Linked DNA regions of Homo sapiens. The protein of the gene in region 1 interacts with the protein of each later gene in a biochemical or structural test. Each region holds a gene or a part of one and is shown on either strand. Other genes may lie near its edges.

Region 1 (7,019 bases):
TTCCCATGATGCATACCAAATTCCCCTTTGGAGTTTCTCAGTATACTTTGACAAATTAAAGCTCCAAGTAATTCTGTAGGAAAGGCCTCTGTGTGGATAAGCTGCTGTATATAATCCTCAGACCATGTTCCCTCAGTGCACCAGTTTGGGAAATGCTCTTCTATGATACTTGCTTTTGGCCTCAGGATCCCACTGTATTTATCTATGGTGGCAGTATTTTATTTGCCCAGGGTGTTAAATGGGGTCGGTGAAGTGAACCGTTAGGTAGTTGATAGACTTTGTGTGTTTATTTTAAATCTCAAGCAAGGATACAATATCTTAATGGGGCATTGGTGATATTATCATCTATGTTTCCTTCCAGTTAAGGTAGCCTGGGATGGGAGAGGGAAGGAAACGAATGTTTATTGAAAACCTACTTGGTGCCCCATTTTGGGTTCTTAGTAGCTCTTTGAGAGTACATGTAGCCTACTGCCTTCAGGAAGGATATAGGAATGAGGGACGGCTGTGAGTACGATTACGTCGATTGATCCCAAGGAAGGTGTGAGCCAAGTTGCTGAATTTGTAGAAATGGTACATGGGGATGTGTTTAACCATTTTTTTGCAGCATGGGAGCACAAAGGGAAACAATTTGTGGAAAATTAAGATTTTTTAGGTCAGGCTTTTACATGGATAGCATCATAAATACCTTGAATTGGGAATTCTTGGATTTTGTAGTTCATGTATATTCAAATGAAAATGAAAAGAATCCTGCAGACAAGTGGTAGTGGCTTAACCTGTCTTGATTTTAACTTGCAGGCAGGGTGCTGTGGCTCATGCCTGTAATCCCAGCACTTTGGGAGGCTGAGGCGGGTGAATCACCTGAGGTCAGGAGTTCGAGACCAGCCTGGCCAACATGGTGAAACCCCGTCTCTACTAAAAATACCAAAAATTAGCCAGGCATGGTGGCATGCACCTGTAATCCCAGCTACTCAGGAGGCTGAGGCAGGAGAATAGCTTGAACCCAGGAGGCAGAGGTTGCAGTGAGCTGAGATTGCACCATTGCACTCCAACCTGGGTGACAGAGTGAAACATCGTCTCCCCCCCGCCCCCAAAAAAAAAATTAACTTGCAAACCCCTTTCACACTCACGTATATCCCCTTAAATGATTATTCTGTTATTTTTATGTGTGCATGATGAATAAGCTATTTTTATTTTATAATATTTACTTTAGACTCATGTATTACTAATCTCCATGATAAAATGTTATCTTAATATAAGATTTATCCTTACAGAGAGATAGAACTTGATGTTTTCTATTTATTAAATGATACCTACTTTCCAATTGAATTTGAGTTATTTAAGGAGAAAGGCATTTATTGACAATTATTAAAATGATTTGCATGATTAGTTTACGTAAAATGTATGTTTTAAGTGAAATTTTATATTTAGAATTCAAAATAGATTCATAGCTTAATGTTTAAGATTTTGAAGGGGAACATCACATCTGGGGACTGCTGTGGGGTGGGGGGAGCAGGGAGGGATAGCTTTAGGAGATATACCTAATGCTAAATGACGAGTTAATGGGTGCAGCACCCCAGCATGGCACATGTATACATATGTAACTAACCTGCACATTGTGCACATGTACCCTAAAACTTAAGGTATAATAATAATAAAATAAAAAATTTAAAAAATGACTTATTAGTTCTAAATTATAGGAGGAAAGGCTTTTAGGCTTTCATTTGTATAAAATAGTTATTTGTATAAATGAAAGCCTAAAATAGGCCTAAAATATTTACACAAATAAAAGCCTAAAATAATAATCCTCCAAAAATAATACATGATGGGTGTACAGTGTTATTCCCGATAAACATGAATATAATGGTCTCTGTATTTTCTCTTTTTCACATTGGTTTGTGAAGTGTTAGTTGATATCTTCATGTGCTGTTTGAACATTTGAAGGTAACTTACAGGTCAGAGAAATAATATTTTAAGGCAAACTTACAGAATTACAATTTTTTATGCACCCAATTAACTTATGTCTCAACCTCAATGTTTTCTCTTAAACTTCAGATCTATCACACATGTATTTTAAATGTCACATGTCAGTAATTTAAACTACAAAACAAAAACTAACACAAGCTTACAGTGTTCAGCTAGCTGTTAAATCATCTGAGTTTTAGGCCTCAAGCATGCTGTGATGTCAGCTGCCCATGCTCACTTCATATGGATTTAGAGTCTTGAAAGGGATTCTGTCTGTAAATGGAGATTTTAAAATAAGGATTTTACTTATTGATTAAAATAAAGGAGTGCAAAACAGATACCTGTTTGTTTCTTCTCTCCTCCCCTACTCCCTCCCTCTTCCCCTCCCCAGCCCCCTCCTCCTCCCCGCTTCCCTCTGTAACCCAGGCTGGAATGCAGTGGTGCAATCACAGTGGCCTCAACCTCCCAGGCTCAAGCAGTCCTGCTGCCTCAGTCTCTGTAGTCGCTGGGACTACAGGGGTTCACCACCACACCTGGCTGACAGATACCTGTTTTTATTAGATTCCTGACTTTATCAATGAGACCTCCCTGAGTACCTTAAATAATCCTTGGAGTGGTGTCTGAACCCTGGGTTTGGAAACGTGGATTTAGATTTTTTTTTTTTTTCTTTTGAGATGGAGCCTCACTCTGTCGCCCAGGCTGGAGTGCAGTGGCGTGATCTCAGCTCACTGTAACCTCTGCCTCCCACATTCAAGCAATTCTACTGCCTCAGCCTACCGAGTAGCTAGGACTACAGGTGCGTGCCACCATGCCTGGCTAATTTTTTTTGTGTGTTTTCAGTAGAGACGGGGTTTCACCGTGTTAGCCAGGATGGTCTTGATCTCCTGACCTCATGGTCCGCCTGCCTCAACCTCCCAAAGTGCTGGGATTACAGGCGTGAGCCACCATGTCCGGCCCCAGATTTTTTAAATACTACCATCTTTTTGAGAACCTATTTCCAGAAACATACACAATAGAGTATTTTTAATCAACAAAACAAAAACTCCCTCAGCAGCACAATGCATAATACAGGATGCTTCACTGAATAGCTTTAACAGGGCCACAAGCACTTTATATAATAATGGAAATAAGTTGGTTTAATGAATTCTGAGTATTAAAAAAACAAATATACTATTATGTTTGGCTTGTAAGCTGGGAACAATAACATTGTAAACTAAGCATGACAAGTATTTTTAAAATGTTTGATTATTTTGTGTTGATGTTACAAATTAAATAGCATTTTTCGTTTTTTCTTATTTTTCTTCTGCTTTAGCTACACAGTCTCACCAGTGGTATTCTTGGGGCCCACCTAATATGCAGTGTAGATTATGTGCAATTTGTTGGCTTTATTGGAAAAAATATGGAGGCTTGAAAATGCCCACCCAGTCAGAAGAAGAGAAGTTATCTCCTAGCCCAACTACAGAGGTACAGTAGTCTTTTTAGTGTTGAAAAATGGCATGTTTTTAAATGGGTTGATTATTCCTTGGAAACAGAAGTACAGTATAGGATAATTAAAAAATGAAGAAAGCTACCTTTATAGCTAAACGTAGCACTACAATATTCAGGGTAGGTGTGGAGAGAAGCAGAGAGAAATTAAATTTTATCAGGTATTCAGAATAATGGTCTCAGACAAAAAAACAATGAGTGTGGGAGATGTTAGCATAAGTAGAGAGCTTACAAATTAAATGTTTAATTGCTTTTGAAAACAGTTCGTAACCTTTACATTCTGTTGAAGGCGTGTCTTACTACATAAAGTCATAAATGCAAATTAAGCATTTTTTCTCCCCGTGGCTGTTTTGGAGGGACAAGAAGTATGGACTTAATCTTGAGGTGAACAACAGTTTAAATGTGATTTTGGTAAAATCCTCATAGGCTGAAGATGCCAAACGCCTGTGTTTACCAGTGGGCGACTACCCTTTTTCAGTGCTGACGGGCTTTCAGGACTCCTTAATTTAAAAAAAAGTGTAGTTAACCCCCTTGGCAGTTTCATACCACTTACTGTGAATGTGATTTTGGATTCCTGTATAGCAGTACAGTATTCTCCACAGTTCCCTTCTCTACTCCCCACCTCTTTCCCAAAAGTGCACACTTTAATTCTCTCTTTTAGAGGTAGTGCACCAAGTGACGTTATAGATGCTTCATGAAAGATTTAAAAGTTGCACTTTTCTTTTGAGCATGATGCAAACAGTAACGTGTTTGGGCAAGTTCACTTCCTTGAGTGTTTGTTGTTTTCTGATTTTGCAGGACCCTCGTGTTAGAAGTCACGTGTCCCGCCAGGCCATGCAGGGAATGCCAGTCCGAAACACTGGGAGTCCAAAGTCTGCAGTGAAGACCCGCCAAGCTTTCTTCCTTCATACTACATATTTCACAAAATTTGCTCGTCAGGTCTGCAAAAATACCCTCCGGCTGCGGCAGGCAGCAAGACGGCCGTTTGTTGCTATTAATTATGCTGCCATTAGGGCAGAATGTAAGATGCTTTTAAATTCTTAACCTTATATGTTGTGCTTCTGACCATTTTCTCTTTTCCTCTCTTTCCTTTTTTTTTTGTTTGTTTGTTTGCAATAAACATAAGTTCTTGTGTACAGCCTTTTATTTGGTTTATTTTTTAACATTGTTTTTGTGTGCTGCCATTTGTATCATGCCAACCTGGAAAAAAAAAATCAAAACATTGAAACTTCTGTACTCTTTACCAGAGAGTAGTGCTTAGCAAAAGATTGGTGGGAGGTGATCCTATTCCATGGGGTTTTGTGATGGAATTGCCTGCAGAGCCCTTATTGAAGCACTTTTACCTTTTAGGTAGTGCCACAATGTAACCCCTAAGGATGCTGTTATAATGAGACTCCATAATCGAGACAGTACAGTCCAGTCTTACATGGATTCATTAGGTTTAAATAAAATTTGCCAATTTACACTAATTAGAGACTGTATGTCTTTGTAAACCTCTCGTTTTTCTCATGAACCTTTTACAATTGTCATACAACATTATGGAAATTCACCCTTGATTCATAACAAATACTATATTTATTAGAAGGTCTAGCAAATTACAAGTAAATTTTAAACTCATTTTTGGGTGAGTTTTCTGAAATTACACATTGCATTTTCATAAGCTAGCATCTAAACATATGGTTGAGCAGCCTGTTTGTCCAGTTTGGTTTCCATTTCATGATCATGTATCATATATATCACCACATAACATTTACATGACTTACTACTCTTATTTTCAACACATTTGGTCTTGCTTATCTTTTTTATTTTTATTTTTGTTAGCACAGAGATCATATGTGTCCATGAATTGTGGATCGTTTTGTCATTACCATGTCTCTGACAATATGTGTATAATTAATATGTTAGCTCTGGAGTCACATTCCAGGCTAGCATGTTAGAGCCGTGCAGCTTTTGTTCCTTAAGGGGTGACAAAACTTGCTGTCTGGCCTAACAGATAGGAAATCCTAAAGCCATTCTAAGAAATCTCTTACTATGAAATGTTCCCCTTTGATTTAAAGAGGATATCAATAAAAGGAATGATGACTGAAAAAAACATTTTTTGTTCCTAAAGATAATTTTTAGCAGAATAGTTGAAAGGCTTTAAAACTTAAGTAGCAGCTCTATAAGAAGAAAAATGCTTTGTAAAGGGAGTTGAGGGCTGGGCGCGGTGGCTCATGCTTGTAATCCCAGTACTTTGGGAGGCCGAGGTGGGTGGATCACCTGAGGTCAGGAGTTCGAGACCAGCCTGGTCAACATGGTGAAACTGTCTCTACTAAATATACAAAAATTAGCCAGGCGTGGTGGCAGGCGCCTGTAATCCCAGCTACTCAGGAGGCCAAGGCAGGAGAATTGCTTTAAACCGGGAGGCAGAGGTTGCAGTGAGCTGAGATTGCGCCATTGCGCTCCAGCCTGGGCAATGAGCGAAACTTCATCTCAAAAAAAAAAAAAAAAAAAAAAAAAGAAAGTGGTAGCAATGTCAGAGTCCCACAGAAGGGGGATTACTATATTAGATTCATGTATATTTGAGAGTTTAGGCTTATATTTAGGTTTTGTGCTAGCATTTGAGACCTCATGGACTTACGTTACCACTTTCCCATTTTGGGAATTAGAAATATTTATAGTCTAAATTGTTCAGCTCATTTAAAACACATTTTCATGTAATTTTTTAAATAAAATGGTGAAGACCAGTCACGGTGGCTTACGCCTGTAATCCTAGCACTTTGGGAGGCCGAAGTGGGCAGATCACCTGAGGTCAGGAGTTAGAGACTAGCCTGGCCAACATGGTGAAGCCTCATCTCTACTAAAAATTCAAAAATTAGCCAGGCATGGTGGCACACGCCTGTAATCCCAGCTGCTTGGAAGGCTGAGGCAAGAGAATCACTTGAACCTGGGAGGCAGAGGTTGCAGTGAGCTGAGATCATGCCACCGCACTCCAGCCTGGGCAACACAGACTCCGCATTAAAAAATAAATAAATAAATAAAAATTAAAAAGTAAAACATTTAAGAATGAAAATGAATGAGACTTTTCCATTAAGATTGGTGGGGATCCAGTATCATCTTTGTCCTAGGACTAGAAGAGAAACCATCAGCAACTCAGTTGGCTGCTGAGGAAACTCTGTTTCCCCAGGGCTTGTGTGTTAATTTTCAGTTAATTTGCACATTATCTTTGTTTTGATTATTCTTCAATGAAGTATATTTTTCTTTTATCTCGTTCTAATTTTTTTCTCAATTGACGGGCCATGCTGCTAAAAGGGATCATAATTAAGTTACCTGTATTTTATTTCTATAAGCATATAGATTATAGTAATCATAAAAGAGCAGTCGTCTATCTGGATGAAATTCAGAGAGCATGTATTATTTTGTTTTGTATTTAGCTTCACTGGTCATTGAGTTGTACATAATCAGATTCTTAAATAATTTTACCTTGAGATTTAAAATGACAGTGTTTCAGCAGCCGTCTACTCTTTTTTATTTTTCAGACAAGCAATGAACTTTTCCTAACATCTAATTGATTATGCTATCATCTCTTCTGT
Region 2 (7,748 bases), on another chromosome or scaffold:
TGTGTGCCACCACATCCAGCTAATTTTTGTATTTTTAGTACAGACAGGGTTTCACCATATTGCCCAGGCTGGTCTCGCATTCCTGACCTCAAGCAACGGGCCCAACTCGGCTTCCCAAAGTGCTGGGATTATAGGTGTGAGCCGCTGCACCCAGCTGGCCGTATCGCATTTTCTTTATGCAGTCTATCATTGATGGGCATTTAGGTTGATTCCCTGTCTTTGCTATCATAAACAGAAGCATTCTTTCCTAAGAAGGAAATTTAAATCTTGAATAGATTGTGCATTCACAAAGTTTAAGGTACAAAGGCAGTATATTCAGGAAAAAAATCACCCTCCTTTAGGCACCTGTCTCTCCATCCCTAAGGTAGTTCTGCTCCCCAACAGGGAACCAAGGTTACCAGTTCCTCTTTAAACTCTACCCTGTGGAATATTTCAGTGCTTTGGAGCAGAAGGGAAAGTTGGGAATAAGGGTGGTGTGAGGAAGAGGGAGGGCGCAGTCCCAGTGGGAGGGTGCCTGTACAGCCCAGTCTCTAGAACTCTGGGGAGTGGGGAGTGCTCATCCCCCAGTGAGAAGGAAGAAAATGCTTTTCCTCCCTCCAGGCCTGAAGCTTAGCTGTGGATGCAGAGGCTGTTCTTTCTTTTACAGCTTGCTTCAGGCTGAATCTTCTTAGTCTTATCAAAAGCCCTTTCTGTCTTAATCCAGGTTTATCAGCACATCAACATGTCTTTAAATAGAATGCAAATTTAAAACCAATACTAAAAATATTAAAATGGTTTTGCCACCCCCTGCTGTAGCCTATTTATAATTTCAGCCAGTATCATCCCGTGGTGTATTTTTGCTCCCTTCTATATAAAGTAGAGCCATCTTTTGTTAGCATGTGCATGGATGACTCTCCTGAGCTGAGTCCTGCTTAATGCTTCTTTCCTGAATTCCAGATTGCTTACTGGGAAGTATTTGATGGGACAGTAATCAGAGAATTGGAAGGTTCCCTGTCTGGGTCGATAAATGGCATGGATATCACACAGGAAGGGGTGCACTTTGTCACAGGTTAGTCCTGGGATAGGAAAAAGCCAAGCCTGGCTTATTTAGACGAGGACATGGAAGGAACTCCCAGGCTAGAGGCAATTGGAAAAGACAACAAAAGGGTCTCAAGGCAACTTGGTTAGAATCAGATTCCAACCAATACTGCAGCCAATGTGGCTGAGAAAGAAAAATCCAGAAGTCACATTTCAATGAGAGGAAACATTTGCACAAGAGCCTTAAGAGCACAAATAAAAGCCAAGACTTAGATTGCTAGGCTTGCTATTTTTGGTGGGCATTGATAATAGAAATGGGGCCTTTAAATGGCCTGGGCTGTCCAGCATACTTCTAAAGTCTTAAAAGCCAGTCTTTTAATTCCACTTTATTATTGCATGATGCGATGCCCTTCCCACCAAAACAAATGAATTAACCAATATTTCAAAGGGGCATTTACCACACAACATGCCGATTGGAACATCATTATCATTTCCTGCCAAGCTCTTTGATTCATCAGGATATTAACAAATAAATGCGGCCAGGCGTGGTGGCTCATGCCTGTAATCCTAGCACTTTGGGAGGCCAAGGCAGGTGGATCACCTGGGGTCAGGAGTTTGAGACCAGCCTGGCCAACATGGTGAAACCCTGTGTCTACTAAAAACACAAAAATTAGCCGGGCGTGGTGGTGCACGCCTATAATCCCAGCTACTTGGGAGGCTGAGACAGGAGAATTGCTTGAGCCTGGGAGGCGGAGGCTGCAGTGAGCTGAGATCATGCCACTCCACTCCAGCCTGAGTGACAGACAGTCCGTCTCAATAAATAAATAAGTAAAAAATAAATAAATGCATGAAATGAATTAAGTTTCACAAGTACATTGACTACAAAGCAGGTATCAAACTAGACACAGTGTGATCCCAATCATATATATGATGTATATGTATACCAGTATACTTATAGAGAAAAGACTGGAAGGAACTAAGCCAAGATATTACTAGTGGTTATTTCTGGGTAGTGGGATGAAATGTGATTTTACCTCTTTGTATTTCCCCCTCCTCTTCAAATTTACTGCAACAGATAGATTTTTATAATCAAGTAAAAGTGTTATTATAAAGACAGATACATGGGGACCATGTTGAAAATGATCCAGTTATTTGAAATCAGGGCTGTTTCTCTCTCTCCTATTGCAGCAATGCCATATACGTGTTTATCTTTTTCAGGTGGAAATGACCATCTGGTCAAAGTTTGGGATTATAATGAGGGTGAAGTGACTCACGTTGGGGTGGGACACAGTGGCAACATCACACGCATCCGCATAAGTCCAGGAAATCAATATATTGTTAGTGTAAGTGCCGATGGAGCCATTTTGCGATGGAAGTACCCATATACCTCCTGAAGCTGATGAGATGTCTCTGAGCCTTGGCGTTGCACGCAGTCCTGTTGAAGACTGAGTTTAGATAACTCCAACACTAGTCTTCATTTCTCACAGCTCTGTTTTTGTTCTTGAGTCAATTTTTCTCTTTTTCTTTATAGAATGCATTTTATATTCTTAAATTGCATATTAAAATTGAAGTATGTTCAAGAATAATTTGTGCAGACTCTAATTAGAACTTTTAACATTTTGAATAAATTCTTAGTTGTTGGTTTTCTGTTATAATTTGTTTTCTGCAACTCTGCAAAACCCACAGACCTTCCTCATGATCTGTGCACAGACAGCATTGCTATTATCCTCTAAAAATAAGGTGAGGTGAATTTCCTTCTTAATTGCCATTTCATTGGTCAAGCTATATGGGACTAGACTCAGATTTAAATCCAGATCTTGGGCAGGCTTCTTAAAAATTCTCTGAGCCACAATTTTCTCTTTTGTCAAGCAAGAGTAAGTTCCTGCTCAAAAGGTTATTGTGAGAATTAAGTGACTAATGTACTAAAGCATCGGCAGAATTCCTGACAGGGTAGAGAGAAATATGCATGCTTTCTCAAAGAAAATGTGTGGTGTTGGGGATCTCAGGACAATTACCAAAGAAAGATGAAATTACAGAGATGCTTTATTGGAGTTGGCCATTACATCTTTCTTCTGTGCTTTCCACCAGAAGGGTGATGAAATGGACCTTGTGTCCTTGTGTATTAATCACCCAGCCGGGTATCTTTTTCCAGAGAGGGGTAAATAATGGCATTTTCCAGAACGCAAGTCTCCGATTCACAGTACCGTCTGATGTTTTAAGCATGTTATTTATCCTTTAAGTAAGGCTGCTTTTTTGCATGAGGTAACTGCTGTAACCCGGTTTGAAAGATCAAGTTTTTTGTTTGTTTGTTTGTTTTTTGAGACGGAATTTAGCTCTTGTCGCAATTTAGCTCTTGTCGCCCGGCTGGAGTGCAATGGCGCGATCTCGGCTCACTGAATCAAGCGATTCTCCTGCCTCAGCCTCCTGAGTAGCTAGGATTACAGGCATGCGCCACCACGCCTGGCTAATTTTGTATTTTTAGTCGAGACGGGGTTTCACCATGTTGGCCAGGCTGGTCTTGAACTCCTGACCTCAGGTGATCCGCCCGTCTCGGCCTCCCAAGGTGCTGGGATTACAGGCGTGAGCCACCGCGCCCGGCCAGGATCAAGAATATTTAATAAATGATGATCACTTATTAAACAACAAGTAACATTTCAGAGCGTTAGAATACTGCATCTCACATGGTGCTGATCTCTTCCTGAGCTAGAAATTGACGAGAAAGTCATTTTGCAAGACCTTGCCTGATTAATTATAAACCTGACAGTTGCATGGGATAAAGTGAGGGGTGGGGGAGGGGCCCAGGGTTACCCAGGGAATCAAGGGCGGGGCAAGGCCAAACTAATTCTGATTGGGCAATCATTCAACAAGGATCGTGCGTTAAGGAGTGAACCAGAAACCGCGTAGGGGGCGCGCCTGAGAGCCTGAAAACTTCCTGGTTAGCAAATACTGAGGCTGGAAAGGGCCTGAACTTGGCAGTCCATAGATCCAGGTCGAGTTCCGGTTTCCCTGCTTACGGATCGGGCGGCCTCCCTACGTTGCGATAACCTCTCTGAGCCCCCTTCCTTGCCGATTAAAGCAAGGGTGATCAAGTCTTGCAAGTTTTTGGAAAATGATTCTAACCCAATCTGTGGTGTAAAAAAGCAAACCACAACCACTCGGGGGCTTTTTTCACAGGGCAACACGTGGCTCCCAGTTCAGGTCCCGGGTTGGCGGGTGCAGGCACAGACTCTGCCTCCCCCCAAGGGGCAGACGGTCTGGAAGGAGGTGGCGACACCTGTCCGCACACACCTGAGCCTGCGGAGGAACCAGCGGTGCACAAAAGCGCTCCCCACCCCCACACAGCGCCCAGCGCGCGCCTCTCACCACGCCCGAGGCTGTGCTCTGGAGATGCCTGCCTTGCCCTTTTCTTCCTGCAGTAGCCAGGCCTTTACCATTTACTAGGCGCTTTCAGAATGTTCATTTCTCCGTAATTTCCACTGCTTGAAGGCTGCTCGAGGAACAGGAGCAGCGGCGAAACCCAGGTCTGTCGGTTTACGAGGTAAGGAAGGGTGGGGAATCCGACCACGAAGACTCCCAGTCAGCGCAGCGGGGGCGGCACCAGGCAGGGGTAGGGGTGGCCCGGCGCTGCCCTGGAGGGGGCTGGTCGTGCCGCCGGATTCCCGCGCGGGGCGGGGCTGCCCCGCCCTTGGCTCCGCCTCCGCCCCGTCCCCGCACACCTGGCCCGCAGGTAGCCGGCACCAGGAGCCTTAGAGAAGCTGTAGGGCCTGCTGGCCGCTCGTCCGCCTCGCGCCCGGGGGCTCCGCGCCTGGAGCTGCGCCGGCGGCAGCCATGGACCTGGGCCCCGGGGACGCGGCAGGAGGGGGACCGCTCGCGCCCCGGCCCCGCCGCCGCCGCTCCCTGCGCCGCCTGTTCAGCCGCTTCCTGCTGGCGCTGGGCAGCCGCTCACGCCCCGGGGACTCACCGCCCCGGCCCCAGCCGGGACACTGTGATGGCGACGGTGAGGGGGGCTTCGCCTGCGCCCCGGGCCCAGTTCCAGCGGCCCCCGGGAGCCCCGGGGAGGAACGCCCGCCCGGACCCCAGCCCCAGCTCCAGCTCCCCGCCGGCGATGGGGCGCGGCCGCCGGGCGCTCAGGGCTTGAAGAACCACGGCAACACCTGTTTCATGAACGCGGTGGTGCAGTGTCTCAGCAACACCGACCTGCTGGCCGAGTTCCTGGCGCTGGGGCGCTACCGGGCGGCTCCGGGCCGCGCCGAGGTCACCGAGCAGCTGGCGGCGCTGGTGCGCGCGCTCTGGACTCGCGAATACACGCCCCAACTTTCCGCGGAGTTCAAGGTAGGCAGCGCTGCGCCGCCGACCGCCCTGTCCCCCTGGTTTCGCCTCTTGAAAAGTGTGTGCACGATCAGGAAAGGGTTTTCTTGGGGCCTTCTTTAAATGCCGTTGACCAGTTCAGCCCCGGATTACCGGCTTTGTTTTGAGTCGATGTGTTACGCTGTCGCTTGCTTATGTTTTCTTTGTAAATTAATTCTCCTAGGTATTTTGAGAGGGAGTGGGGTGAGCTGGCAGATTGAAGGGTAATCAGCGTTTTTGGATTCAACAAGCATTTGTTGAAGTATTGAAGGCTTGTGGGCCAGACAGTGTTCTAATGCCAGCTCTAGAGCTTCCAGTCTGGAATGATGTGGGGTAGGGAATGGGATGTTGAAGGCCAAGGCCTCAGAGGAAGGAGGTGATGCTTGCGTTGAGATCTGAATGATGAGAAGGATGCAGTCAGGGCAAGCTGTAGGACTAATCCAGGCAGGAGGAACAGCAAGTACAATTGCCATAGACCCGAAGGAGCTGAGTGCTGGAGACAGGGAAAGAAAAGCAGTGGCGTTGGAGCTTAGGAGGCAGATGAGTTTCGCCAGATCACGTAAGACCTAGGAGGCAACGGTAAAGAGTTTGGATTTTATTCTAAGCCCAGTGGAATCTGACAACCTACAGGCCAGGTACCGTGCTGAGTGCCCAGCAAAGGCAGTGAGCGTGCTATTTTGGAGATAGCATCCTTTTGTTTAAGGCGCATTCAATCCCCTACAATGTATGAGCACGGGCTTGCATTTTATTGTCTGCAAGATCACGGTCTACTTACTCGGGTTGCTGCCGGGTCGTGAGGCTTTGTAAATTGTTTGTATCACTTCACCCGGGATTAAAACGGGGTGTTTGTTTGGGGTCCCAGTTGGATTAAAGCGTTCCTGATAATTGATGCACATGGCTTGCTTCCTGCAAAAAAAAAAAAAAAAAAAAGAAAAAAAAGAAAAAAAAAGAAGAAGAAACCCGCAGCTCTGGGCAGAGAACTGAAGCTCCCTACAGACTAGTGATTGTTGTTCTTGGGGGAGGGGGAAACCTGTCAGTGTTCATTCCACAAGCATCACCGCTCTTGAGTTTCAGCCCGAGAAAGCAGTGTTTGCCATGTGACCCATGAGATGCCAACCCCCACCTTCCTCCCTCCTGCCTCCATTAGTGAAGCACTGTTCTGCAGCAGCCAGTGGGTCAAATGGTTGTCACTAAATGTCTCTTTTTGGTGACATTTGCTTTTTAAGAAAGAGGCAGTATAGTATAGTGGTTAAGAGCAAGGTCTCTGGAGTTTTGTGACCTTGAGCAAGTTACCAGATCTCTCTGTGCCGCAACTTTCTTCATCTTTAATATAGAACCATAATGGTACTTACCTCGTTATACGGTTGTTGTATTAAATGAGTTCTATGTAGAACACAGTGCCAGCCCCACAGGAAATGTTCATTATTCTATCACGACACCTTCTCACCTGCAGAAACCTAGAGCAGGGAGGGAGGTAATCTTTATGTACATTTTCTCTTGCTAGATGCATTTCCATCCAGTTACCACAGCAATGGGAGAGGGCTGCAGTAGTTTGAAAACACTTCGAAATTGGCCGAGCGCGGTGGCTCACGCCTGTAATCCCAGCACTTTGGGAGGCCGAGGCGGGTGGATCACGAGGTCAGGAGAGCGAGACCATCCTGGCTAACACGGTGAAACCCCGTCTTTACTAAAAATCCAAAAAAAAAAAAAAAAAAAAAAATTAGCCGGACGTGGTGGCGGGCGCCTGTAGTCCCAGCTACTGGGGAGGCTGGGGCAGGAGAATGGCGTGAACCTGGGAGGCGGAGCTTGCAGTGAGCCGAGATTGCGCCACTGCACTCCAGCCTGGGCAACAGAGCGAGACTCCGTCTCAAAAAAGCAAAGCAAAACAAAACAAAAAACTCCGAAATTAGTAATCACCCTCAATGACTCACCAGAATTCCCTATCTCTCTCCCGCTGTCAAATCCCCAGGGCCTGGGAGCTCCCAGTAAGCCTCAGGGAATTGAAGGATAATCAAGTTTGTAATATGTTAATGAGGGAGATACAATCTGGAATTTCCTGGGATTTTTGGGTAGTCAGCTTTGGAGGGAGGAGTGGAGGATCCCAGAATCCAGGCTTTAAATATTATGGATTGAAATCTAGGTGAGCTCTTCTTATTTTACAGATGGGGAAACATTCGTTCAACAAATATTTATTGAATGTCCAGAGAGTAGACTAGGAATGCATGGAATGCATGATGAGTGATGAGTACAAACCCAGATTCTGGGGCTGCTCTCCAGGAGCTTATGGTCTAGAGGTAGAAATGGATGTTAATGAAATAATCACACAGGCACATGATTGGAACAGAAACATGTTAGAAAGGACAAATACAAGGTGCTATGACAGT

The links.
Region 2: the proteins of MTA3 (region 1) and USP43 form a complex in vitro, tested with the Homo sapiens proteins (one study listed by BioGRID).

What each region holds. Positions count from the first base shown.
Region 1 is NC_000002.12:42,704,629-42,711,647, forward strand, and holds part of MTA3 (metastasis-associated protein MTA3), read left to right. Parts: intron 1-3,274; coding exon 3,275-3,426; intron 3,427-4,245; coding exon 4,246-4,468; coding exon of another isoform or gene 4,469-4,491; exon of another isoform or gene 4,492-4,916; intron 4,917-7,019. UniProt on the Homo sapiens protein: Acts as a component of the histone deacetylase NuRD complex which participates in the remodeling of chromatin.
Region 2 is NC_000017.11:9,640,788-9,648,535, forward strand, and holds the start of USP43 (ubiquitin carboxyl-terminal hydrolase 43), read left to right. Parts: upstream 1-4,767; 5' UTR 4,768-4,845; coding exon 4,846-5,349; exon of another isoform or gene 5,350-5,930; intron 5,931-6,139; exon of another isoform or gene 6,140-6,270; intron 6,271-6,716; exon of another isoform or gene 6,717-7,748. Other genes in the region: CFAP52 (cilia- and flagella-associated protein 52), read left to right, coding at 4,459-4,767. UniProt on the Homo sapiens protein: May recognize and hydrolyze the peptide bond at the C-terminal Gly of ubiquitin. Involved in the processing of poly-ubiquitin precursors as well as that of ubiquitinated proteins.